4 linked regions of the Homo sapiens genome follow. The protein of the gene in region 1 interacts with the protein of each later gene in a pairwise test. Each region holds a gene or a part of one and is shown in the gene's direction. Other genes may lie near its edges. The genes, in order: PPP1R12C, EHHADH, THOC1 and SPECC1L.

The links.
Region 2: the proteins of PPP1R12C (region 1) and EHHADH interact in binary tests that used the Homo sapiens proteins (3 or more experiments, as listed by UniProt).
Region 3: the proteins of PPP1R12C (region 1) and THOC1 interact in binary tests that used the Homo sapiens proteins (3 or more experiments, as listed by UniProt).
Region 4: the proteins of PPP1R12C (region 1) and SPECC1L interact in binary tests that used the Homo sapiens proteins (3 or more experiments, as listed by UniProt).

The regions. Positions count from the first base shown.
Region 1 is NC_000019.10:55,093,609-55,100,640, reverse strand, and holds part of PPP1R12C (protein phosphatase 1 regulatory subunit 12C), read left to right. Parts: intron 1-1,545; coding exon 1,546-1,690; intron 1,691-1,782; coding exon 1,783-1,857; intron 1,858-4,305; coding exon 4,306-4,379; intron 4,380-4,462; coding exon 4,463-4,590; intron 4,591-4,700; coding exon 4,701-4,774; intron 4,775-5,037; coding exon 5,038-5,196; intron 5,197-5,282; coding exon 5,283-5,350; intron 5,351-5,842; coding exon 5,843-5,980; intron 5,981-6,205; coding exon 6,206-6,296; intron 6,297-7,032. UniProt on the Homo sapiens protein: Regulates myosin phosphatase activity.
Region 2 is NC_000003.12:185,190,106-185,195,063, reverse strand, and holds the end of EHHADH (peroxisomal bifunctional enzyme), read left to right. Parts: intron 1-1,576; coding exon 1,577-2,838; 3' UTR 2,839-4,440; downstream 4,441-4,958. UniProt on the Homo sapiens protein: Peroxisomal trifunctional enzyme possessing 2-enoyl-CoA hydratase, 3-hydroxyacyl-CoA dehydrogenase, and delta 3, delta 2-enoyl-CoA isomerase activities. Catalyzes two of the four reactions of the long chain fatty acids peroxisomal beta-oxidation pathway.
Region 3 is NC_000018.10:258,043-265,074, reverse strand, and holds part of THOC1 (THO complex subunit 1), read left to right. Parts: intron 1-982; coding exon 983-1,049; intron 1,050-3,954; exon of another isoform or gene 3,955-4,357; intron 4,358-4,770; coding exon 4,771-4,889; intron 4,890-5,344; coding exon 5,345-5,393; intron 5,394-5,799; coding exon 5,800-5,895; intron 5,896-7,032. UniProt on the Homo sapiens protein: Component of the THO subcomplex of the TREX complex which is thought to couple mRNA transcription, processing and nuclear export, and which specifically associates with spliced mRNA and not with unspliced pre-mRNA.
Region 4 is NC_000022.11:24,322,821-24,329,852, forward strand, and holds part of SPECC1L (cytospin-A), read left to right. Parts: coding exon 1-98; intron 99-1,399; coding exon 1,400-1,607; intron 1,608-6,025; coding exon 6,026-6,099; intron 6,100-7,032. UniProt on the Homo sapiens protein: Involved in cytokinesis and spindle organization. May play a role in actin cytoskeleton organization and microtubule stabilization and hence required for proper cell adhesion and migration.

The DNA.
Region 1 (7,032 bases):
ACTCCGTCTCAAAACAAAACCAAACCAAAACAAAACAAAAAAACATTTGTTGCAGAGTAGAGGTATATGTTTATTTGATGATACTCATTCGATGCTTATTTTTGAGCCCCTGCTGTGTGCCAGGCAGTCTGTTAGGTGCCAGGGAAATGGGTAAACAAGACAGATCTGGGCCTGTGTGCGGCTCATAGCCTCGTGGGGAGACAGACATTTTGGGCTGATCGCTCTTGCTGCGGGGCCGTCCCATGCATCACAGGATGTGGGGCAGCCTCCCTGGCCTCCACCTATGGGATGTTGGGAGCATCCCTGGTTGTGAGAACCAAAAATGTCTCTGGACGTGGCCAAATGTCCCCTGGGGGGCAGCATTGCCCCAGTTGAGAACTGCTGGCTTAAGATATAAATAGGGTTATGGGAGAAGACAAGTGTGATGAGGAGGGGCTTTGGGGTCAGGAGACAGGGGGATGAGGGGGTGGTGACTGCCAAAAAGGGGCTCAGCGTGAGATGCTGCAGGGCACAGAACACTGCCCGGCTGAGAGCAGCAAGTGCAGAGGCCAGCGGCGAGCGGACGCTTGGGGAAATAGCGAGGGCCCAGCACAGCTGGGGCAGGGTGAGCTCCGGGCAAAGCGTGGGAAAGGTGAAGGGCAAGGTGGGCGGGACCAGAGAGAGGGACTTGTGCTTATAAGGCCTCTTTGTAGAATATCCCAGGCTGTCCATCTGTTCCCACTTTGTGAAGCTCTTTCTCATTGACACAGAAACTCATTCCAGTTCTCCAAAAATAGACACGTCCTACCGTTAAGCTGAGCTTGGAGAGTGGCCTTGGACTTGTAACCCTGCCTTTGCCCTCAGATTGAATGGTTTAAGGTGGTTATTGTTTTCTCGCAGAACACTGTCTCGGGTGAGGGTTTCTCAGCCTGGGCGCTGGCAGCATGTTGGGTCAGGTCCCTCTCCTTGTGGGGCTGCTGCTGAGCGCTCTGAGCGCAGCCGGGTGTGGAGCAGCCTCCCTGGCCTCCACCCAGCCGATGCCGCTAACCCTTGCCCTAAGTTATGACAACAAAGATGTCTGCAGACCTGCCGGGTCTCCCCTGGGGGACAGCATTGCCCTGGTTGGGAGTCACTGCTTTAAGCCAGCCCGGGTCCTAGAGCACTACTGCCCTGAGACAGCCCTTTGGGGGTCCCATCCTTCTGACAGGCATGGGGGCTGGCAAGGGTCCTGCACTTGCATCCTCCGGAGCTGCCTCCTTACACCCCGCTGCTGCCACCTTGGAATCCCACAGCCAGGGTGACCCCCTGCCAGCACCAGGAGCAGGTTCCAGAGGCCACCTGCAGGGTCAGGGTTTAACATGTAACTGCTGGTCCAAGGGGAGGGACAAGGCCTGGTGCAGAGGGGCCTCTTGTGGCAGCGGATGCTGGGCAGTGGCTCTTTACCAGCCTGTCCAGGGACGTTTCAGTCTCGTGGCCTGGGACCTCGTTACCAAACCGCTGGCCGAAATCAGCCCTCGGCCAAGGGCCCCGCCTTGGCCTCTGACCCTGAGCCTCCCTGGCCCCCAGGTTGCTCCTTCAGGCTGGCTACGACCCAGAGCTCCGGGACGGGGACGGCTGGACTCCCCTGCACGCAGCGGCACACTGGGGCGTGGAGGATGCCTGCCGCCTGCTGGCCGAGCATGGCGGGGGCATGGACTCACTGACCCATGCGGTGAGGGCCAGTGCCCAGGCTGGTGAGGGGCAGGGCGTGGGGAGGGCCCAGCACCTCCTTCATTGTCTGATCCTGCTCCTCCCCTGACCCAGGGGCAGCGTCCCTGTGACCTGGCCGATGAGGAAGTACTGAGCCTGTTGGAGGAACTGGCCCGGAAACAGGAGGACGTGAGTGTCAGGGCTGAGGGGCTTACCCCAGACTCCCCATGTCCCCTCAGCTCCTCAGAGGAGGGTGCAGAGGGGGAACCCCCCCGACTTCTGACACCCACCACCCCAGCGACCTGCTATTTCCCTCTTGGTGACCCAGCCCCAGCCCCAGCCTCAGGAGAGACCCCCAGCCGGGGCAGGACAGAGATGGGGCTGCAGAGCTTCCTGCCTGCCTGGTGGTGGGGGCGGCAGAAGGATTTGGACAGGGTTGTCTGACACCCTGATGAGGTTGCTTAGCACACCTCATCACCTCAGGGTGGCCCTTGGCAGCAGCCATGTGCAGGATTGTCCTAGACTCAGGCTGGGCTGGTCACCCACAAGGTGTCCCCCAGCCATCCCCGGGGCAGCCTTGCTGGGAAAACTTAGAGTGAAGGAGTGAAGGGCGTGAGCCTTGGCCAGACTGCCTGGGTTGGAATCCCGGCTCTGCCATGGATCTGCCGTGAGTCTCAGCCAGCCACTTTCCTTTCCGGGCCTCAGTTTCCTTATCTGTCAAATGGGAATGGTATGGTGCGCAACTGTATGAGGGGTCATGCGTGACACGTGGATTGTGCTGTCAGGAGCTCGGGGGAGTACGTGCCCCTGGAAAGCACTAGAGCCATGCCAGCGTTCAGTGAGCTCTGTGAGGTGACAGGAAGCTCCCAAGGCCAGGCCTAGGGCTTCTGGTGCGTGGGCAGGGGAGCGGAGACAGCTTCCTCTTTTGAAAGGTTGGCAGGAGCGAAGTGGAGGCTGATGGATGTAGGAGAAGATCTCACACAGGCTGGGGGGCAAGTGTGGGTGCCCTGAGGTGCCCAGGGAGGGGAGCGTAAGGCAGGGCAGACCCGGGAGGGCCACGAGTGCCAGGCGAGGAGCATGGTGGCTTCCATCCTGAGGGTGATACGGCCATGAGGGGTTTAATAGGTGGGGCAGGGTCAGCTCAGGGGGCCCAGATATGGGGGGAGACCAGCCTGGGAGCATCTGGGGACACTTTCTGGAAGACGTGAGTACTACAGCACTAAGAGTTTGCTAGAAGGGCAGGAATGAAGGGCCCTCCCAGTACAAAGGTGTGAAGACGGTGGTGAACTGCGCGGGGAAGGGGCGAAGACGGTGGTGAACTGCGGGGAAGGGGTGAAGACGGTGGTGAACTGCGCGGGGAAGGGGCGAAGACGGTGGTGAACTGCGCGGGGAAGGGGTGAAGACGGTGGTGAACTGCGTGGGGAAGGGGCGAAGACGGTGGTGAACTGCGAACTGTGCGGGGTAGGGGTGAAGACGGTGGTGAACTGCGCGGGGAAGGTGTGAAGACGGTGGTGAACTGCGCGGAGAAGGGGCGAAGACGGTGGTGAACTGCGGGGAAGGGGTGAAGACGGTGGTGAACTGCAGGGAAGGGGTGAAGACGGTGAACTGCGGGGAAGGGGCGAAGACGGTGGTGAACTGCAGGGAAGGGGTGAAGACGGTGGTGAACTGCGTGGGGAAGGGGTGAAGACGGTGGTGAACTGCGAACTGCGCGGGGTAGGGGTGAAGACGGTGGTGAACTGCGCGGGGAAGGTGTGAAGACGGTGGTGAACTGCGCGGAGAAGGGGTGAAGACGGTGGTGAACTGCAGGGAAGGGGTGAAGACGGTGGTGAACTGCGTGGGGAAGGGGTGAAGACGGTGGTGAACTGCGAACTGCGCGGGGTAGGGGTGAAGACGGTGGTGAACTGCGGGGAAGGGGTGAAGACGGTGGTGAACTGCGCGGAGAAGGGGCGAAGACGGTGGTGAACTGCGCGGGGAAGGGGCGAAGACGGTGGTGAACTGCGCGGGGAAGGGGCGAAGACAGTGGTGAACTGCAGGGAAGGGGCGAAGACGGTGGTGAACTGCGGGGAAGGGGCGAAGACGGTGGTGAACTGCGGGGAAGGGGCGAAGACGGTGGTGAACTGCGCGGGGAAGGGGCGAAGACGGTGGTGAACTGCGCGGGGAAGGGGTGAAGACGGTGGTGAACTGCGCGGGGAAGGGGCGAAGACGGTGGTGAACTGCGGGGAAGGTGTGAAGACGGTGGTGAACTGCGCGGGGAAGGAGGAGGCGAGTGCCGGCTGCAGGAGCCGGGGCAGCTGAGGGCCCACCAGTGCCCTGGGTATGCTGAGGGGTCGGGGTGAGGTCTAAGCAGGTCTCCCCTGGGAGCTAGAAGGACCCCTCTGGGGATGAGACTGGAGGCTTCTCATGGGTGGGGGCCGTGAGGACAAGACGGCAGTGCCTGCACGTGGCAGCTGCGGGCGCCTGCTGGACGCAGGGCACCTCCTGCCCCTGAGGTGTGTGGCCATCTGTAGGAAAACCAGTAAGCCCACGAGCCCTCGGTGCCCGCCTGGGCAGTGAGCTCCTGCACAGCTGTTTGTGGTGGTGTTGCTGTGGGGCACGTGTGCTCCACCCCTCCCCTGCAGCCCCCTTCCCTCCTTGCAGCTTCGGAACCAAAAAGAAGCTTCCCAGAGCCGGGGCCAGGAGCCCCAAGCGCCCTCTAGCAGCAAACACAGAAGGTATAGGGAGGGAGGAGTCCAGGGCTGGCGGGGTGGCTGGAGGCCCCGGGCTTGTACCCCAGCACCCTCTCCTTCCCCAACAGGAGCTCTGTGTGTCGTCTGAGCAGTCGCGAGAAGATTTCCCTCCAGGACTTGTCCAAGGAGCGCCGGCCTGGTGGGGCTGGGGGGCCCCCCATCCAGGACGAGGATGAGGGGGAAGAAGGTCCCACCGGTGAGGGGCCTGAATCTGGACTCCTGGGTCCGAGGGAGGAGGGGTCGGGTTCTCTGAATCTAGAGGCAACTGGCATCTTCTGTGACCTGCCCGGTGTTCCCACATCACAGAACCACCCCCTGCAGAACCCAGAACCCTCAATGGCGTCTCCTCCCCGCCGCACCCCAGCCCTAAGAGTCCCGTGGTGAGTGGATGCCCTGAGAGGTCCTGTGAGGCTGGGAGGGCCCGGAGGTGGGATTCCATACAGCCTGTGAACCTCTGGCAGGGGCAGATAGGGGGAAGACTATAGTTCCCAGAGTCGTCCTGGACAACCGGCTTCCTTTTTAGGCTGTGCCTGCCCCGGGGGCTGATGGGAATTGTAGTTTGTTGCAGTCCTTTGGGGGCTAACCCTTGAGGTCTGAGAAGAGGGATCCTTTCTCTCTAACTGAGACCTCCTCCTTCTCCCAGCAGCTTGAAGAGGCCCCCTTCTCCAGGCGCTTTGGCCTCCTGAAGACAGGGAGTTCTGGTGCCCTGGGTCCCCCTGAAAGGCGGACAGCGGAGGGAGCCCCTGGGGCTGGGCTGCAGCGCTCGGCTTCCTCCTCCTGGCTGGAAGGGACCTCCACTCAGGTGAGTGAGGGTTGGGCCGGGTCCAGGCCCAGGCCCCTGCCCAGTCGAGGGAACTGCCCCTTCCTCCCCTTCTCCTCTCCACACAGGCCAAGGAGCTCCGTCTTGCCAGAATTACCCCGACCCCCTCCCCGAAGCTGCCGGAGCCCTCTGTCCTGTGAGTCCCCAGGGCCTGGGCCCCTCAGGGGTGGGTGGCAGATGTGGGTTCCAAGCCTGTCCGTGTGATCCTGAGTGAGACCATGTACCCCCTGGGGTCTGGTTCCTGCCGCCACTCCAGAGCCTGTGCTGTGTTCCTCTTGGGGGCTCTCTCCCTCCCTCAGGTCTGTGTTGAAACGTCACCTTCTCCCCTATCTTCCCCCCACCCCGAGGTGCACACTGACCACCCTGCTGCCACCACGGCGCCGTCCGCACACGCACACCCTCCCGCTCTCAGTTCTCGCACTGCTGCTTCTGTCCAGAGTCCTTTATCCTTCTGACCGGTTGCGTAGTGTGCTGGTCTTTTCATGGCTTTTGTGGGTTTTGTGTATTTCTGCTCAGCTCTGACTCTGTTGTGGCCCAGATAATTTGTTTCTTTCACTCACGGCTGCATCTCCAGTGCCGGCACACAATGCACCTGGGTAATGTTTGTGGAATGAATGAATTGATGCAGGTCTGAGGTCACCAAGCCTCCTCCTTGCTTGGAGAACTCCTCGCCTCCCTCCAGGATTCCGGAGCCTGAATCCCCAGCGAAGCCAAACGTCCCCACAGCCTCCACGGCGCCCCCAGCGGACTCCCGGGACCGACGGAGGTGAAGAGGCCAGGGCAGGAAGCTGCCGCCCCCGCCCCCAGCAGGGAGAGACGATGTGAAGCAGGAGTCCCGGGGCTTTGGGTGGGCTCCTGAGGGAGAGCTGGCCTCAGGTCTGCTGGGAGTTGGAGTCCCCTCCCACAGAACTTGCTTCCCGCGGAGGGTGTCAGCCACGGAATGGGACAGGGTCCCCAGGTTCCCTGTCTGAGGTTGGGACCCTTCCCTCAGGTCCTACCAGATGCCTGTGCGGGATGAGGAGTCGGAATCCCAGAGAAAAGCTCGCTCCCGTCTCATGCGCCAGTCTCGGAGGTCCACACAGGTGTGGGGTGGGCTGGGGTCTGGACTCCTGGGTCTGAGGGAGGAGGGGCTGGGGCCTGGACTCCTGGGTCTGAGGGAGGAGGGGCTGGGGGCCTGGATTCCTGGGTCTGAGGGAGGAGGGGCTGGGGCCTGGACTCCTGGGTCTGAGGGAGGAGGGGCTGGAGGTCTGGACTCCTGGGTCTGAGGGAGGAGGGGCTGGGGCCTGGACTCCTGGGTCTGAGGGAGGAGGGGCTGGGGCCTGGGCTCCTGGGTCTGAGGGAGGAGGGGCTGGGGCCTGGACTCCTGGGTCTGAGGGAGGAGGGGCTGGAGGTCTGGACTCCTGGGTCTGAGGGAGGAGGGGCTGGGGCCTGGACTCCTGGGTCTGAGGGAGGAGGGGCTGGGGCCTGGGCTCCTGGGTCTGAGGGAGGAGGGGCTGGGGCCTGGACTCCTGGGTCTGAGGGAGGAGGGGCTGGGGTCTGGGCTCCTGGGTCTGAGGGAGGAGGGGCTGGAGGTCTGGACTCCTGGGTCTGAGGGAGGAGGGGCTGGGGCCTGGACTCCTGGGTCTGAGGGAGGAGGGGCTGGGGTCTGGGCTCCTGGGTCTGAGGGAGGAGGGGCTGGGGCCTGGGCTCCTGGGTCTGAGGGAGGAGGGGCTGGGGTCTGGGCTCCTGGGTCTGAGGGAGGAGGGGCTGGGGCCTGGGCTCCTGGGTCTGAGGGAGGAGGGGCTGGGGTCTGGGCTCCTGGGTCTGAGGGAGGAGGGG
Region 2 (4,958 bases), on another chromosome or scaffold:
GGTGTGAGGTAAGGGTCCAACTTCATTCTTTTGCATGTGGATATCCAGTTGTCCCAGCATCATTTGTTGAAAAGACTATACTTTCTCTGTTGAATGTTCTTGGCACTCTTGTTAAAAATCAATTGGCCATAATTGTGTGGGTTTGCTTTTGGCTATCAGTTCTATTCTGCTAATCTATATGTCTATCCTTTTGCAATGACCACTATCTTACACTGTCTTAAATACTATAGGCTTCTTTTTTTTTTTTTTTTTTTTTTTTTTTTGAGACAGGGTCTCACTCTGTCACATAGGCTGGAGTGCAGTAGTGTGATCATAGCTCACTGCAATCCTCAAACTCCTGGGCTCAAGATATCCTCCTGCTTCAGCTTCCCAAATAGCTGTGACTATAGGCATGCACCATCATGCCTGGCTAATTTTTGTTGTTGTTGTTGTTGTTGTTGTTGTTGTTGTTGTTACAGAGTTTCAATCTTGTTGCCCAGGCTGGAGTGCAATGGTGCGATCTTGGCTCACTGCAACCTCTGCCACCTGGGTTCAAGTGATTCTCCTGCCTCAGCCTCCCAAGTAGTGGGGATTACAGGCATGCACCACCACACCCAGCTGATTTTGTATTTTTAGTAGAGACGGGTTTTCTCCATGTTGGTCAGGCTGGTCTTGAAATCCTGACCTCAGGTGATCTGCCCACCTCGGCCTCCCAGAGTGCTGGGATTACAAGTGTGAGCCATTGCACCTGGCCCCCTGGCTAATTTTTAATTTTTTATAGAGTTGGAGTCTCACTGTGTTGCCTGGGCTGGTCTCAAACTCCTGGTTCCAAGTGATCCTCTCACCTTGGCCTCCCAAAGTGCTGGGATTACAGGCACGAGCCACCTCACCCAACCTTGAATAGTTTTGTCATACAATTTGAAATTGGGAAGAGTGAATCCTCCAACTTTGTTCTTTTTCAGTATTGTTTTGGCTCTTCTGGATTTCTTGCATTTCTATGTGAATTTTAGGATCAGCTTATTGATTCTGCAAAAAACCAGCTGGGATTTTTATAGGAATTGTGTTGGTTCTTCACATCAATTTGGGTAGTATTACCACCTTAACAATATTAAGTTGTCTGATACAAAAACATTTAATGTTTTTCCATTTATTTGGTCTTACTTAATTTCTATTAACAATGTTTTGTACTTTTTAGTGTACAAATCCTCCTATTCTTTGTTAAATTTCTTCCTGTGTATTATTCTTTTTGATGCTATTGTAAGTAGAATTGTTTCTTTTAATTTTATATTCAGATTGTTTATTTCTAATATATAGAAATATACTTGATTTTTGTATATCAATTGTGTACCTACAATCTCGTTGGACTCATTTATTAGTTTGTATAGCTTCTATTTGTGTGTGTGAATCTGACTAATTTTTATATCCTCTGAAACACTTAAGAGAGTGCAGAGTCTTAACTAGTACTCAATCCATTTGTGTTTCTTGACTCAATCTCTTTAAATGCCACATTGTCACATAAGCCTTCCATCCAGTGAATAATTTATCAGTTCCCAATACCACTGAATCATTCTTTTTCTCCTTTGATTTTTATCTGCAGGCTTGGGAACAATGGGCCGAGGCATTGTCATTTCTTTTGCAAGGGCCAGGATTCCTGTGATTGCTGTAGACTCGGACAAAAACCAGCTAGCAACTGCAAACAAGATGATAACCTCTGTCTTGGAAAAAGAAGCCTCCAAAATGCAACAGAGCGGCCACCCTTGGTCAGGACCAAAACCCAGGTTAACTTCATCTGTGAAGGAGCTTGGTGGTGTAGATTTAGTCATTGAAGCAGTATTTGAGGAAATGAGCCTGAAGAAGCAGGTCTTTGCTGAACTCTCAGCTGTGTGCAAACCAGAAGCATTTTTGTGCACTAATACTTCAGCCCTGGATGTTGATGAGATTGCTTCTTCCACTGATCGTCCTCACTTGGTCATTGGCACCCACTTCTTTTCGCCAGCTCATGTCATGAAGTTGTTAGAGGTTATTCCCAGCCAATACTCTTCCCCCACTACCATTGCCACTGTTATGAACTTATCAAAAAAGATTAAAAAGATTGGAGTCGTTGTAGGCAACTGTTTTGGATTTGTGGGGAATCGAATGTTGAATCCTTACTACAATCAGGCATATTTCTTGTTAGAAGAAGGCAGCAAACCAGAGGAGGTAGATCAGGTGCTGGAAGAGTTTGGTTTTAAAATGGGACCTTTTAGAGTGTCTGATCTTGCTGGGTTGGATGTGGGCTGGAAATCTAGAAAGGGGCAAGGTCTTACTGGACCTACATTGCTTCCAGGAACTCCTGCCCGAAAAAGGGGTAATAGGAGGTACTGCCCAATTCCTGATGTGCTCTGTGAATTAGGACGATTTGGCCAGAAGACAGGTAAGGGTTGGTATCAATATGACAAGCCATTGGGTAGGATTCACAAACCTGATCCCTGGCTTTCCAAATTCCTATCACGGTATAGAAAAACCCATCACATTGAACCACGTACCATTAGCCAGGATGAGATCCTTGAACGCTGCTTATATTCACTTATCAATGAAGCATTCCGTATCTTGGGAGAAGGGATAGCTGCTAGCCCAGAGCACATTGATGTTGTCTATTTACATGGATATGGATGGCCAAGGCACAAGGGCGGGCCCATGTTCTATGCTTCCACAGTTGGGTTGCCCACAGTTCTAGAGAAATTGCAGAAATATTACAGGCAGAACCCTGATATTCCCCAACTGGAGCCAAGTGACTATCTAAAAAAACTGGCTTCTCAGGGAAACCCTCCCCTGAAAGAATGGCAAAGCTTGGCAGGCTCCCCTAGCAGTAAATTGTGATTCAGTCTTCCAGATTATGCCTCACATGCTAGCATCAGGTAATGCTGACTGAATTTCAGTGAAATTAAATCAAAAATCCAAAGTAAGATTGTTCTGAAATACAAAGCAAAATAAATAATCATTAGAATCTTCTGTGTAACGACTCTAATGGTCAAATCTTTAGGAATGTGCTTCCTATGCCTCTGAATCTGTCCTTATCAGATAAATTCAATGCATGAACTTGTGTGAATATAATACCATAATAGCTAATGAAAGAGGCTCAGGCATAAGTTGAGATTCTCAAATGCTTTTATCATTGGATAAATGTGTCATCAATTAATAAATGATAAATGCAGCTAAGTCATACATTCATTTTGACTCCTTTCAATGTCACACACATAGTATTGATCAGAAATCTTATGAATCATACATACACTCAACAAACATTAAAGTTGTAGGAAAAAGACAGTTGGAAATTGGTAAGGGAACTGAGTACTTCAAACCAGCACAGGGAACTTAGGTTAGTGTGGCAAGCCTTTCCTCTTCTGGTCTTTCCTCTTCTGTTTATGGAGAAATAATAGAAAGTAGTAAGTCGTTAACTTAGTGTAAGAAGGGTCTTAGAGAACATCTAACCTTCTAGGATTTCCCAATTCTGTGATAGAGTAATGACACCAGTTTTCCTGTCATGACAAGCCTCTGTGATGTTACATATGGAAATGGTTGAATCTTGAAAAATCTAAAATTGTTGCAAAACATATTTTGTATGATTTTGTTGTAAGAGTTCTTCTCTTTTTACTTTTTGCCTTGTGTAGTTAAAAATTAAGGGGCTGGTCAATACAAAAACTTGTACACAAATATTTATAGCAGAATTATTCATAATGGCCAAAAGCTGAATACAACCCAAATGTCTATGAACTAATGAATAGATAAACCAAATCTGGTATATCCATACAATGGACTATATTATTCAGCCATAAAAAGAAATAAAGGGCCAGGCACAGTGGCTCACACCTGTAATCCCAGCACTTTGGGAGGCTGAGGCAGGAGGATTGTTTGAGGCCAGAAATTTGAGACCAGCCTGGGCAACATAGCAAAACCCTGTCTCTACAAAAAATACTTTCCGTACATTAGTGGTTGCCTAAGGCTAGAATTGGGGGTGATGAATGGGGAGTACAGGATTCATCTAATGGGTACAGGATTTCTTTATGGTTCATGAAAATGGTCTAAACTTATTGTGGTAATGGTCACATAACAATATATTAAAAACCATTGAGTTGTATATTTTAAGTGGGTGAATTATATGGTATGTGAATTATATCTCAATAAAGTTGTTAGTAAATAAATGGGGCTGAAGATGTTATCCTTCATTGTGGTGTAAATGAACTTTCACAATATTTTCACCTGTGAACCCAAATAAAATGATTAAAGTTCTGATGGAAAAATCTTGAATGGAGTATAAGTTTTCCGTTGTTAAAAAGCAAACAAAAAACCAACAAAAAATCCAAGTGTGCCTTGAATTGTACAGAGCACAATTATTATGTTTGAAATGTGTACTACTTAATTTTATATAATTTGGTTTGTGAAATTAAAGACATCAATAAAAATGATTCCTGAAAGTAGTAATTTTGTCTCCAAAGTGACTTGCTTTCAAATCAGTGTTAAAAAAAACCCACTAACTTTTTCTTCAAACCTGGAATTAATTTTGAGTTCTTACAACTTATTTTCACCCTACAGTGGCCTCTAGATTAAGGGGGTTTTTTTTGTTTTTTTGTTTTTGTTTTTGTTTTTTTCTGACTGGAGTCTTGCTCTGTCGCCCAGGCTGGAGTGCAGTGGCGCTATCTCAGCACGCTGAAAGCTCTGCCTCCCAGGTTCACACCATTCTCCTGCCTCAGCCTCCTGAGTAGCTGGGACTACAGGTGCCCGCCACCACGCCTGCCTAATTTTTTGTATGTTTCAGTAGAGACAGGGTTTCACCATGTTAGCCAGGATGATCTCAATCTCCTGACGTCATGATCCACCTGCCTCGGCCTCCCAAAGTGCTGGGATTACAGGCGTGAGCCACCACGCTTGGCCTAGATTGAGATTTTGAAACTAGAGGGTCTATGAATAGGTTTTATGAGTCAATAACCCCTGAAATGTTA
Region 3 (7,032 bases), on another chromosome or scaffold:
ATAAGAAAAGTTGACATGAGGTCTTAGGAAGAACTAGAGGTGAAGGTGGGCTCTCTCACTTTCCTGTATAAGCAGTGATACATCCTGTAGTGGCGCAAAAGGTCTAGTCCAAGAATATTTAGCTTAGGAGCTGGGATTCCATTCCCTCATTTTCCTCTGGCATCCTCCTCATCAGTAAACTTACATAAATAACTGAGGGCTCTCCAACTTCGGTAGAGAAGTCTAACCATGAAAAATCTGAATTTGTTTACCAATAATGGGGCACCTGAATGAAAGGAAAAGTTTCAACAGTTTATTCTTGGTCAAGCAAAGGTTGGGTCCCCAAAAGCTAGATTCCCTTCTATTGGCCATAGTACAATGTCCCTTTCTCTCAGACAAGTCTGATTAAAAAATGATTCTTTCCTTTTCTTCAGACTTAGTCACTTTTCCATTGTGAGGCATTGGGCAAGTTCTTTTCCTTTTCTGTGCTTCAGTTTCTTTTGTGAGAGGGGAAATACCGTTCTTTCAGTGTTGTTGTGTGTAAAACAGCACTTAATGAACACTCAGTAAATGCTGGTTATTATGATTTTATAGAACCTAAGCACTGTCTTCCTTCTATTAAAACCACCCCTCAGACACATGGGTGTATTAGTAGTTAATTCTCATAGCCCTGCCTTTGCCCTGTGCCACTGGCTGAGTTATGGCTTCAGCACTTCTGTCCTTGATTAGCTTATAGCCTTCATCTTGCTAATATAACCATTTTCTTGAGACCATTGGATTTTGAGTGAGTTGCCTGTTACTTGACATACTTCTACGACTATTGATTCTATATGTTACTGTTAAATTTTGGTAACTTCATATTAGAAAATATTGTTTTCTATAAGAAATATTGTATTCCATATTTCTGATAGTCAATTTAATATCAGAGTACATGTTTTTACTGTTAATCGAGTTTAGTCTGAACTCTTGCCCCTAAATTAAATTGTTTCTCCTCTGTTGGTAGATAAATCATTCATCATGTGAAAACGTTTTAGCTATTATTTCTCTTGCTATTGGGGGAGTAACTGAAGGTAAGTATGGTTCCGTTTTGTTTTGTTTAAAGTAATCTTGGACATGACATGCTTTATTTAAAACGTCTTCTCCCCATACTTCTCCACCTATCTGATTTTGTTTATTCTTCAAGTTCTGCCTGACTCCCAACTTTGCCAAGAAGTCCCAGTTGAATTAGTTCACTCTTATTTCTCATCTCTATTATGCAGTGCACATTTTGGCACTTCCTTTGTTCTCCAGTTGTTTTGTTCATTCAGTAAATTTTCATTGAGCATCTACTATGTGCCTGGTACTGAGCTAGGACCTGGAGATTCAATGGTGAATAAAACATATTCCCCTGCTTATGTGGAGCTAATGGAAGAAACAGATGTATGCATGCCTTACTATGGTGTAAGTACTATGGTCGAAGTGGGAATGAAGTGTAGTTAGAGGGAATAGAGCCAACATGGCTCTCTAAACTTCAGTCTAAAGGAGTCAGGAGAGGTTTTAGAAAAGAACATGAGAACTAGAATGTGAGGTATGAAGAATTTGTTAGACATACTAAGAAAGGAATAGCTAGAGAATTGTGTACAGCAGGAGGAGGAGAGGACAATGAGAATGATGAGGAAAGAAGCAGGTTAGGTCCATTTATAAAGGGCACTGGGTGCCATACTAAAGAGCAGCTGCAGGCCGGGCGCGGTGGCTCACGCCTGTAATCCCAGCACTTTGGGAGGCTGAGACGGGCGGATCATGAGGTCAGGAGATCGAGACCATCCTGGCTAACACGATGAAACCCCGTCTCTACTAAAAATAAAAAAATTAGCCGGGCGCGGTGTCGGGCGCCTGTAGTCCCAGCTACTCAGGAGGCCGAGGCAGGAGAATGGTGTGAACCCGGGAGGCGGAGCTTGCAGTGAGCTGAGCTCGAGCCACTGCACTCCAGCCTGGGCAACAGAGCAAGACTCCATCTCAAAAAAAAAGAGCAGCTGCAGATGAATGATTCCATTTGAAGTGACTGCTGGCAGGAAAACTGGGCAGGAGCCTGTTAAAATGGCTGTGTGTGATAGCTTTAGAAGACTTCGGGTAAACAATGCACATAGTACACAGAGCCTAACACAAAATAGGAGCTCGTTAAATATATGCAGAAAGAAGAAATAAAAAATTAGTTTATCAGCATTCTTCTTTAACCAATTTGGTTAAAATACTCATTTGATTAATTCAAATAATATATGTGAAAACTCCTTTTTAATCTGTAAAGCATTATTCACATTATGTGTTATTTTGATGCTTCTATAAAAACTGGCACACACCTCCCAGTATAGGGGCAAACTATTTTATGAACTTAAGTTCATAAATTCACTTTGTTAAATGTTTATACAAGCTGCCTAATCATTCATTCATTAGGCATAGTTAGCTGAGTCCCACAATGTAATATTCCTTGTCTAGTTTCAGTCAAACAGTGTTCAGTGTGTCCTGAGTTCATTGATTACCTTTATACATTATTCTTGCACAGCTGGTGATGTTTTTAATGAAGAAGTTGTACAAAGTCTAGTCTATACTTGGAACTTTTGAGAAGGATAAGGACTTAAGAGCTTAAACTGTAAAGGCATAGTGCATTTTTATTTTAGGGATAATTTTTCTTTTTGAGACAGACTATAATTGGTTATGTGACATGTTTTTAAATTATCCATAAATATATTTTGTTAAATTCAATTTGGCCGATATTTATTGAGCTTCTATTCAGTGTGAGATGCTACTGGTTAAAGCATACAAAAATGCCTAACCTTAAAAAGCTCATAGTCTACATTCAAAGGTGACTAGTTAGGATGTGCTAAATGCTACAGTATATTTATGTAGAGTGTGCTTCAAAAGCATAGATGAAGTAGCCTGCTTCAGGATATCAGAGTTATTTAGATGAGCTGACATTCACTCTATGCTTAGAAAGATGGAGTTGAAATTTACCATGTGGTAAAGAGGAGGAAGAGTATGCAGAAAACAACATTGTGAACAAAACCATGGAAGGATGAACATGGCATGGTGTTTGGGAACTGGGGAGTGGGAACTAGAAAGGGATGTCTGTGGCCCAGGTAAGGGTAAGGAGAGAGATTGGTGTGGAAGCTGGGACACAGGTTGTGAAAGCTCTTGGGGGAATCACACTATAACCCAATGGTTCCCAGACTTGCTGGCTCATCAGAACCACCAGTGAATCTATTTTTAGATGAGATTCCCAAACCTTGCTTAGTTCTACTGACTCAGAATTTTGGCAGTAGAATCTAGAAAAAGTTCTATAATTATTAAATGTGAGTTAACTTATTCCAGGCTATACTGCAACTAAGGGCAGAAAATATGCTTCTCAAATCTCTTGGATGTGCAGGGTATATAATATCATTGAATCTAAGTATTGTTAGGGACTTTAGAGGTCACCTAGTCCAGTCTCATCTCTGGCCTAGACTGCTTCTCTGCTGTAACATCCCTGGTGGGTGGTCATTCAGCCTCTGCTGAATCATGCTCATTAGTGGAGCTCACTGTTTGAGTCCTGTTAGACAAATGTGGTTATTGGTGTGTTCCCTTGTATTGAGTTGAAATCTGCTGTTTTATTTCACCCACTGCTTCTAGGCAATATCCCTCACGTCGCATTCCAGATATGATCTTACTAGTGCAGAGTACAGCTGGAAATATTTCTTCCTTTTTTCTGGACATAGTATATTAATGCACTGTTTTGGGCTTAGATCACCCTAGATATTTTTCCTCCATATACCATGCCTAAGTGACTACTTTTCTTAAACACTTATGAGTGTTAGTAAGTACTCATTGCCTTAAAATAGAAGGAAGAATGAGTAGGGATATAAAAGTATTCTAAGTAGTCTAGATAGACTACGTAGACCTTTTCTTAAGAAAAATCTTAATTTTGTTGTTCTTTAAACAGTAACTTTCTACTTTTCCATTCTTTCCCCTGAAACAATACTGTTATTTTAAATGTTGAATCATAGTTAATATCAAACCTTGTTATTTTTTGAAGATAATCTTTTCAAATCACAAAGACAATTTAGCAACATTACAAAACATTTAGAAATAAGAAGGGAAAACAGTACTCTTAATTCCTCTACTTTTAAAAGCTACCATTCATCTGGTATAATGGTTTTAGTTTCTATAGTCTTTTAAGAATTTTTTTTATTGTCATAACCATATGTACATACAATTTTGAATCCTGCCTTTTTTCACTTAGCATTATATCATAAGCATTTTTCCAAGTTATTATAGTCGTTATAACCATCATTTTTAATTGGCTGCATTATATTCTTTTGAATAGCTTAGTGGTGAAGAAAACAGACTGTGGAGCCAGACTGCCTGGGTTCGTATCCCAGCTCTACCACTTACTGGCTCTATGATCTTGGTGAAGTTATTTAACCTCTCTGTGTCTCAGTTTTCCCATTCTATAAAATGCAAATAATGATATGCTCTACCTCATAGGATTGTAAGGATTAAATGTGTTAGTATATGTAAAGTACTTAGTGTGCCTGACATATAGTAAATGCTCTAGATCTTGTCAAGAATTATTGTCATCATTACTGAGTGCACATATCAAAAATTACTTAAGTATGTCCTATTTGGGGACTTTTAGGTTGCTTCCACTTCTTGTCCTTTTAAAACCTTGTTATGAGTAACAAAGTGTACCTTTTAAGATATTCTTCAGAATTATTTTTCATAGGCTATTCTACTCTACAGTTTTTTAAACTTTTAAATTGGCTTGTGCTCCACTTGAAGGTATTTGTACCGCATCTACACCTTTTGTATTGTTGGGAGATGTTTTGGATTGTCTTCCTTTGGATCAGTGTGACACAATATTCACTTTTGTGGAAAAAAATGTTGCTACTTGGAAATCAGTAAGTGCCTTAGTTTCTTTTCCTGCTAACTTTATCTTTCTATAGATCCAGAATTCTGAGGGTAGATTTTTTTTTTTAAATTTATTTGTAGTATTGCTGAATGCCAACAAGTTTCTGCCTATGAAAAAATTATATACTGCTCTCTCGGGAGAGCCAAATAAAAACCATGTGTGGAGAAAAACTTGAAATACAAAATTTGATTTAATTTGTGTAATAAAAATTAACTTGAAAATTCACACTTTCACATGTTTAAAACAGTTACTTAGTATCATGTTTTCTTATATCTGAAAATATTTTTATTTCATTGAAAATGTTATTTGCTTAAAAAAAGTGAAAGTGGCATAGTAGATTCTCAGTGCATGTTAGTGTTCTTTAATATTTCACTCTGGCAACTTATTATTGAAGAATGTGTAACAAGTTCTGAAGAAGAGTGATAATTTCCGTCTTAATTTCAGAATACATTCTATTCTGCTGGGAAAAATTACTTACTACGTATGTGCAATGGTAAGTAATTGAGTGATAAAATGATTGCTTTTTAAGTGTAAATATGCCCAGAAAAACACATGGTTGAATTAAATACCAGTGATAACATTTTAAAGATAGATTAGGTATCTGCATTTTTAACTAACAATCTGATTTGTTAGAACTCATTATTCACTTTAAACTGTTTTTGTTCTGGGCATAAGCTTAAAGTCAGAAACGTAGTAAAGTTTGTCTTTTTCATGTCATGTTGAACTTGTTTTGTTCCTAATTTATAGTACTTTTTTGTGGCAGTGGTTTCGGCCCCCAATTTAAGAACTACTGCTTTAGGAAAATACTCTTGACACACTGGTTTAGAAACTTTTAGGTGTGGTTGTAATAAACATAGAATTATCTTTTCTGTGTAACGTTCATTTTCATATATTGTTAGATCTCCTAAGAAGATTGTCTAAATCCCAGAATACAGTCTTCTGTGGACGGATTCAGCTCTTTTTGGCCAGGCTTTTCCCTCTGTCTGAGAAATCAGGTAAGCTTTTATGCATTAAATGAGTTTTCTGCAGGAAAATCTTTTCCAGTTTTTAATAGATTAAAATCTGTCATGATAATGAGAAAAATGGTTCTAAAAAGTTGAAAGACATCATAGAAATTGTCACTTTATTTTCTTTTACTTATAAATGTATAGCAGTCCTAGTATATAATACAGGTAATCCTGAAACAAAGTCATGGATTCTTTTAAGTTCAAAGCTTATTAATGTAAAGTTGAATCACACTGAAACATGTAGATATGAACCATCATATCCGTATTTCATAATGTATGCCTATTTTTGTGTTTGGATTTTCTCTCAGTCACAACTATTTAGCTATATAGACTTCCTTTCATTTCTCTTTTTTTAACAAATTTTTATTGTGAAATATAACGCTCATATAGAAAAGTACATAAAGCGAATAATAATGAAACAAATACTGTATAACCACTATCTAGCTCCTGAAATGGGACATTGCTTGTCCTCCAGAGCCTTCCGCCTCCCCAGTATGTTCAAATATGCGAGATTTTAATATCTCCTTGCTTCAGTCCTCCCTTCCTTAATATTGGGCTAATGTACCACCTACTTTATATGTTCTGAGGATTAAATGAATTAAAACATGTGAAGAGCTTACATTAGTGCCTGCATGTAGAAAGACCTATAGCATATGTTAGCAGTGGTTTATGTGCTTTCTTTTTGTCATCTTATGTCTGTGCTGTTTTCTTTCATACTTATTTTATGTGGTCAGGGTTAATATAGATTTACCACTTCTTGTATTTCTGGCTTTCTGTCTGTGATCATTTTCCCTTTTAGACTTTTCTTCAGTGCAGGTCTGTGTTTTGCCTAAAAATCGTTACTTCTCCTTTATTTTTTTTCCTTTCTTTCTTCCAAACTCCTGTTAATATTGGTATTTTGACCTCCTCCCAATAGGTATAAGATTCTAGATTGGCACTAGATACAGGATTTCATCTCACGGGAAATAATCTTTACTTTGTCTTCTGTTTCCCATTTTTCTATTGACAAGTCAGATGTCAGTCTCACTTCTTGAAGATAATCTACATTTTTTTCTCTGCGCTTAAGATTTTTTTTCTCCTTTGGTTTTCTTTTAGTTTTACTATGATGTATCTCTGTGTAAATTT
Region 4 (7,032 bases), on another chromosome or scaffold:
TGGACAAAGAAAAAGCAGAGACTTTGGCTAGTAGCTTGCAGGAAGATCTGGCTCATACCCGAAATGATGCCAATCGATTACAGGATGCCATTGCTAAGGTATTGTTTAAATAGATTAAAATGTTCCGGACAGCATTAGGCAGCTGCCATGCACAGTGTTTACTGAGAACCTGGGTTACTGGTTTGGTTTGGTGTGTTATTAGCTTTTTTTTAAAACTGATATTTTTAAAACTTGGGAATGGTTTCCTTTTATTGGAATAGTGTGAAAAGTATTCTTAAGATAATGTCACTTTCTCTCACTTGTATTTTGTTTCTGTTTTCCTGCCTGTGAGAGGATATGGCTGGTATTACAGCTAAAACCAGAATTTGTCCCTAGTTCTGAGTATTCCTATGGAGCGGGTCATGAAATTTTACCTCCCCCCGCCTCATCTCGAATCTGTTTTGGTGTAATAGGTGGAGAGTCAGTATTCCAGTCTGTAGCATCAGCAGTGCATGTTTCCTCTTATCTTGCTATAGTAATAGTTTTTCAAATAGAGATCTGTTGATAGTTAAAAAATATTTTTGGCATATAGAGGCTCCTGTTTCTCAGAGGCCTGTGATTTATTGCTGGCAGGGACCTTAGCAATTATCAGTCCAGACCCTTGTTGTACATGCCTCCAGCATAATAGTGAGGACTCAGTTGGAACTGCTACCCAGGGCCACTGGCATTCTGGCCAGGGATCTATCTATACCCCATGTGGTTGCTGATGAACTGTTTATTTCCATGAGTTATTCTAGTTATACTAGTTATTCTAGCTTACATTTTATTTATTTGTTATTTTAGTGCAATGATTTTAAAATAAATTTTCATATATCTTTGGCTAAAATTTGAGTAATTTAGATTTTAGGGTGTTTTTAGTGATCACTTTTAAAGTTACAGTTTAGGAGATTTGTATTAGTTCTTGGCACATACATGTTGAGAGGCTACTGTGAACTAATACTTTTGTAAAAACACTATTTGAGAATTGTTTTCCCTTTTTCAGTTTGATACTGGAACCGTCACAAATATGACATCATTTTTGTTAGGACAACATGTTAATCATTAAACAAACGTACATGCTTTCAGTCCAAAGTTAGGAGAAACGAAAATTTCCAAAGTTTCCTTGTAAATAATCAGGTTAAGTTCAATGATACATCAATATAATTTCAGTCAGTGTTACAGCAACAGTTTAAGTGTATTAGATAAAATCTTACCATGGAGTGCTTTTTCATACTTTTTAACAGTTATTACACAGGTTGTTTTAGTTTATCCATAGTGCCTCATACTTAGCTCCCCTTGGAAACTGTGTGTACCTCAATTCTGGAACGTACCTTAGAACAACTCTTAACTTTTCTAAATCTGCATCGTCAATTTTACGTAGGTAGAGGATGAATACCGAGCCTTCCAAGAAGAAGCTAAGAAACAAATTGAAGATTTGAATATGACGTTAGAAAAATTAAGATCAGACCTGGATGAAAAAGAAACAGAAAGGAGTGACATGAAAGAAACCATCTTTGAACTTGAAGATGAAGTAGAACAACATCGTGCTGTGAAACTTCATGACAACCTCATTATTTCTGATCTAGAGAGTAAGTGATAAGAACTTTTCATTCTTTTTTGTCCTACTCTTTTAAACATGCGGGGATAATTTGCATTTAGTAATAAAATAGGGCTGGGCACGGTGGCTCATGCCTGTAATTCCAGCACTTTGGGAGTTCAAAACCGAACCAGGCTGGGCACAGTGGCTCACACCTGTAATCCCAGCACCTTGGGAGGCCAAGGCAGGCAGATCACTTGAGTTGAGGAGTTTGAGACCAGCCTGGCCAACATGGTAAAACCCCGTATCTACTAAAAATACAAAAATTAGCTGGGTGTGGTGCCAGGTGCCTGTAATCCCAGCTACTTGGAAGGCTGAGGTGGGAGGATCGCTTGAACCCAGGAGACGGAGGCTGCAGTGAGCTGAGATTGTGCCAGTGCAGTCAAGCCTGGGTGACAGAGTGAGACTTTATTTCAAAACAGAAAAGAAAAAGTCACAGATTGATCCTGTGTCCATGGTAACTGCCTGGCAATATCAGCATGATTGATGGAGATATAACCAGAGCGAGAATGGATTATTTTTTGTCAGAGAATAATGGGGTTCATAATCAATAATGGGACTCAAAAGTTATGAACCCATTATTAAATGAGTAGGGCAGTGCCCAGAGTTGTTCAGAACAAAGTTGGTCTAATAACATTGAGAACAGCAGTTTGCCTGATCTCTAGAATAAAAATAACATTGTAAAAATTGAGTTATAATTTGTAATTTAAAAATAGGAAGATCATAGTAGTAGTTCTTTTCCTTGGTCGACTTGAATGTTGCTTTTGAGTTGAAGACAGTAGATGGCAGTGTCCCTCACAGTAGGAACACTGAAGAGGAAGGAAACTGCTGTTAGAGGTTCGAGAGTTGAAGAGTAATGCTGCTTTCTTGTGTGACCACAAATCGTGCTAGATGGCAGTTTTGCAAACTAGTCTTCACAACAAGAACTTAAGCACAAATTCCTTTGTTTCCAGGAAAAAAAAATACATTCCATTTCAGAGTAAAAACGTAGTCATGACTGTAGAGATTGTAAAGTTTAAATCAAATCCCTACAGACACTTTTAGTGCATTTTATTCTGTCTGAGTATTTCCACTGGCTGCCACTTTCCCTTTTACTTAAATGGATTTATTTATTTATTTATTTATTTATTTATTTATTTATTTATAAGAGGTGACAGTAATAAAAATGTAGTGCCGGGGGCAGAAAAACACCTTTTAAAGAACAGTGATTATGTGAATTCTGTGGCCATGAATGAAAAAAGGTCAATAAAGAGAAAAAGAGCAAAGGAATGAATGCAACTTGAGAATTTATGATCAGTCTAAGATGACCAGGTAGCTTAAAATGTCACCTGAGAATCAAAATGCCAAATGTTAAAAGTGAGCTGTCCTGAGATTTGCTGTCATTTGTCATGTGTGTATTATGTTTAACAGTAAGTAGATGTGTCATGTCCTTTGTGACAAGAAAAAGAAAACAATTTTCAGCAAATTTCAAGAGAAATTACACTCCTAACATTTTTTGTTTGCTTGCCTGTTTTTTGCTGTTTGTTTGCTTTTTTGGGATGGAGTTTCATTCTTGGTGCCCAGGCTAGAGTGCAGTGGTACCATCTTGGCTCACTGCAACCTCTGCCCCCCGGGTTCAAGCGATTCTCCTGCTTCAGCCTCCTGTGTAGCTGGAATTACAGGCGCCCACTACCACACCCGGCTAATTTTTTATTTTTAGTAGAGACAGGGTTTCACCACGTTGGCCAGGCTGGTCTCGAACTCCTGACCTCAGGTGATCAGCAGATATTACAGGCCTGTGCCACCACGCCTGACCGCCTGTTTTGATTATGAAATATTTCTTGCATATAAATTGATACAATGTAAATGAAAGGTGTAACTCCCAGTGTTTTCAACATTAGAAATTTTTCAGCTTCTGTCCTTACTCCTCGTCTTATGTCCAAAACCCTGAATTTGTCTATGTGTGAGGTCGCAAGGAACCAAGTTCCCTTGCTGATTCCAGAGCCATCCTTGCCTCCAGAGATAAGGATCAGGGCATTAGACTCGTCTACTCAGCTTGGTGTCTGCTTTACCCAAACCAGATTAGATGGCCTGTTTGACTCTTCGTTTGCAGGTTGAGTCTGAAGTACCTTATGTGTGAGACAGGCTTTAAAGTTTAATCTTTTGCTTATGAAGTCATCTACCCTTGTTGTCTCAACACAAGACTAGCCTTTCTGTCTCTAAGAGGATGAAGATTATATCTTTCCTTTCCTTTACATCTTAAGCACTTAGAAAAAAGCCTGGTACAAAGTTGGTACATATGACACATTTATCAAATTAAAGAGTAAATTTTGAACCTTTTTATTTCACAGGACCTGACTTTGTTACACAGTTTTGGGGCAGTGAATGAGAGCAAGTTAACTACTGCCTACCAGAATTGCCCCTGCCGCCAACGTTTTATCCCATTTATTTCTGATCCAGCTTTAGAAAATACAGCATTATTATTTATTTGTAATAATTATTATTCCACATATAATTGTTGTAAATATTCTAGGCTCTATGTTGTTAAAGTGAATTCATGCCATTTAAAAATACCAGAACACTGGCTGGGTGCAGTGGCTCATGCTTGTAATCCTAGCACTTTGGGAGGCCGAGGCGGGTGGATCATGAGGTCAGGAGTTCAAGACCAGCCTGGCCAACATGGTGAAACCCCGTCTGTACTAAAAATACAAAAATTAGCTGGACGTGGTGGCAGGCGCCTATAATCCCATCTCCACAGGAGGCTGAGGCAGGAGAATCGCTTGAACCCAGGGGGCAGAGGTTGCAGTGAGCTGAAATCATGCCACTGCACTCCAGCCTGGGCAACAGATTGAGACTCCGTCTCAAAAAAAAAAAAAAAAAAAAAAAAACATCAGAACACACATATACCAACATCAAATGTAAAGCATAATGGCAAAAAAATTTTAGAAGAGAAGGTTCTAGTGGAACAGGGGTAAAGAAGATGATGAGCCATCTAAGAAAGAAAGAACATCAGCATACTCATACTTTAGGGTCCTAATTAAAAGCCAATAAAGTGTTAGCTAGAGGAAGAATTTTTTGATTACATGTGTCATTGCAAGCAGGTGTTCACTATGCCTGAATTCCTGCTACTAAGTATAAGGAATGGGAGAGAATGTTATTTACCCAGAAACACTAATGTCTATAGTTATGTTTTCCCTAATGATAAATCGTTAAGTTCTGTCAATAGGATACTTATTAAAAAAAAAACAAAAACCTAGGTAACGATTTCAGCATTACTTTTTATTACTGCTACCATTAGCTGGCACATTTATAAATTTATTCCATTTTAAAGATACCATATTCCAACTACTGAGTCTGTGAGGTCATCACATGGCTTCTTCTGCCTTTGAAGTGTTTTTAGTCTAGTGGTCGAGACAGATGTGTCGAGATGTGGTAATATTGGCGGCAACATGGTACAAGGCTGTGTAAGACACACTTGGAACACACACAACAGCCAGGGATCTACTGGGGTGGGGCTGTAGGTAAATCAGGGTAAAGGATTTGCCACCAGTTGTGTAAGTACCCTTTCTTGCCCTTAACCAAAAAGTGATTGGTTCCTGAGCTGTCAAAGTAACACAGCCGTAAGCGGTTTACTTAGTGGCAGCTATCAGCATAGCACCCTCCTAAGTCATTTATCTCTTATGCATGGATTTTAGAGTAGAACCTCCAAAGAGAAGGTGACTTCCCTTTACGTTTCTGGTTCCAGGGAGACTAGCCTGTGCTACACTTTCATCCTTGTATCCTCACTCTATCTAGAATGGTACTTTGCATCTTATTGGTGGTGCTCATTGAATGTTTTTAGAGTGAATGAAATTGTTCTAAGAAAATTCACATTATCGGATAAATAATTTGAGGAATTATTGATTTACTTTATAAATATATTCTTTATTTTTTAAAAAGATTTTTATAGAATTAATTGAAACAGCAGCTACCCTGAGTATTATATTTTTTACTAATTTTGATTTTACTAATTCACTTCTTTTCTGGAATTTATTCCAGTGTGTAAGGAAAGCTATGCTTATATAAATACTGCAGATTAATAATACTTGTGATTAAAAGTTCATATTGTAGTCACAGTCAATATTGTTTTGATTGGTTATGTACCAACAAAGTGAATTTCTAACGGTTTTACTTTTTGTTTCAAAATTAAGATACTGTGGAAGGAAGTGATTTAGAAATTGTGATTTTTAACTTGATATTTTCCAAAGAAAGTAATATTTGTTATTACTTGAATTTAACATTTTTTCTGTTAAAGTTTTGTATTAAAATTTTTTATAGTCTTTGGACAGGATAACTTTTTTCGAATGTCATATTTAAGTATCCCTTTTCTTTGTATTATTACTCTGAAGATTGTTGTGAGAATAGATATTTAAACTTTGGTGATCTTTTCAGATACAGTTAAAAAACTCCAGGACCAAAAGCACGACATGGAAAGAGAAATAAAGACACTCCACAGAAGACTTCGGGTAGGATAAATCTTCATGTATTGTCTTGTTAGAAAACGGTTTTCTGAAATCTGAGGTGTAGTCATTGACCATGTTATCATTCATCTTAAGTTTTGGATACAGTGATAATACTGGCCCCATTGGGCTTTGGGCAGAAAGCAAATGCTATCATTTCAAATTGGGATTGGTGCTAGATTTTGGGTAGAAGAATGTACTATAGGTTGAGTACCCCTAACCAGACATTCTGAAATCTAAAATATTCCAAAATTTGCAACTCTTGGAGTGATGGCATGATACTCAAAGGAAATGCTTATTGGAGCATTTTGGATTTCGGATTTTCAGATTTGGGATGCTTAGCTGTTAAGTATAGTGCAAATATTCCAAAATCCAAAGAATCTTAAATCTGAAATGCTTTTGGATAAGTGATACTCGACCTGTAGAAATTTATGGGTAGTAATTTTAGAAAGATAGATTTGGGGAAAAAGTGTAAGAAAGGTTATTAGCTTTTGGTTATAAGGTGCCCCAAACTAGTCTGTTTTCATACAAGTTTTCTTCATTTTGTGGCCATGATCCATCTTGCCAACAGCAATGCAGCCATGCTGCAGGGAGTAGGGAGAAAGCTACTCAGTCGTTTGGGTCATACCACAGTTGCTCAGGCTGCTTTCATGGTGTAAGAAAATTGCTTTAGGGGTGTAGGGGGCGTGGGGCTCAGGCATGCCCCAGCTATGGCTCTGATGGAGGTGAGTCCCAGGGAGACTTCCCCACCCGGCCACACCCGCATCCTCCATGACTGTGGGAAGCAACAGACCACGTAGTTCCTTACCGCCTCTTTGTATAATTTTGCCTGCCTATATTGAGTTTAGTGTTTTTCTTCTGGCTTCCTCTTCCTCTTCCTTTTCTTTTGATTTTTTTTTTTCCTGTTAGATTTTGATGTCAGGCTATTTATAGTTTTTC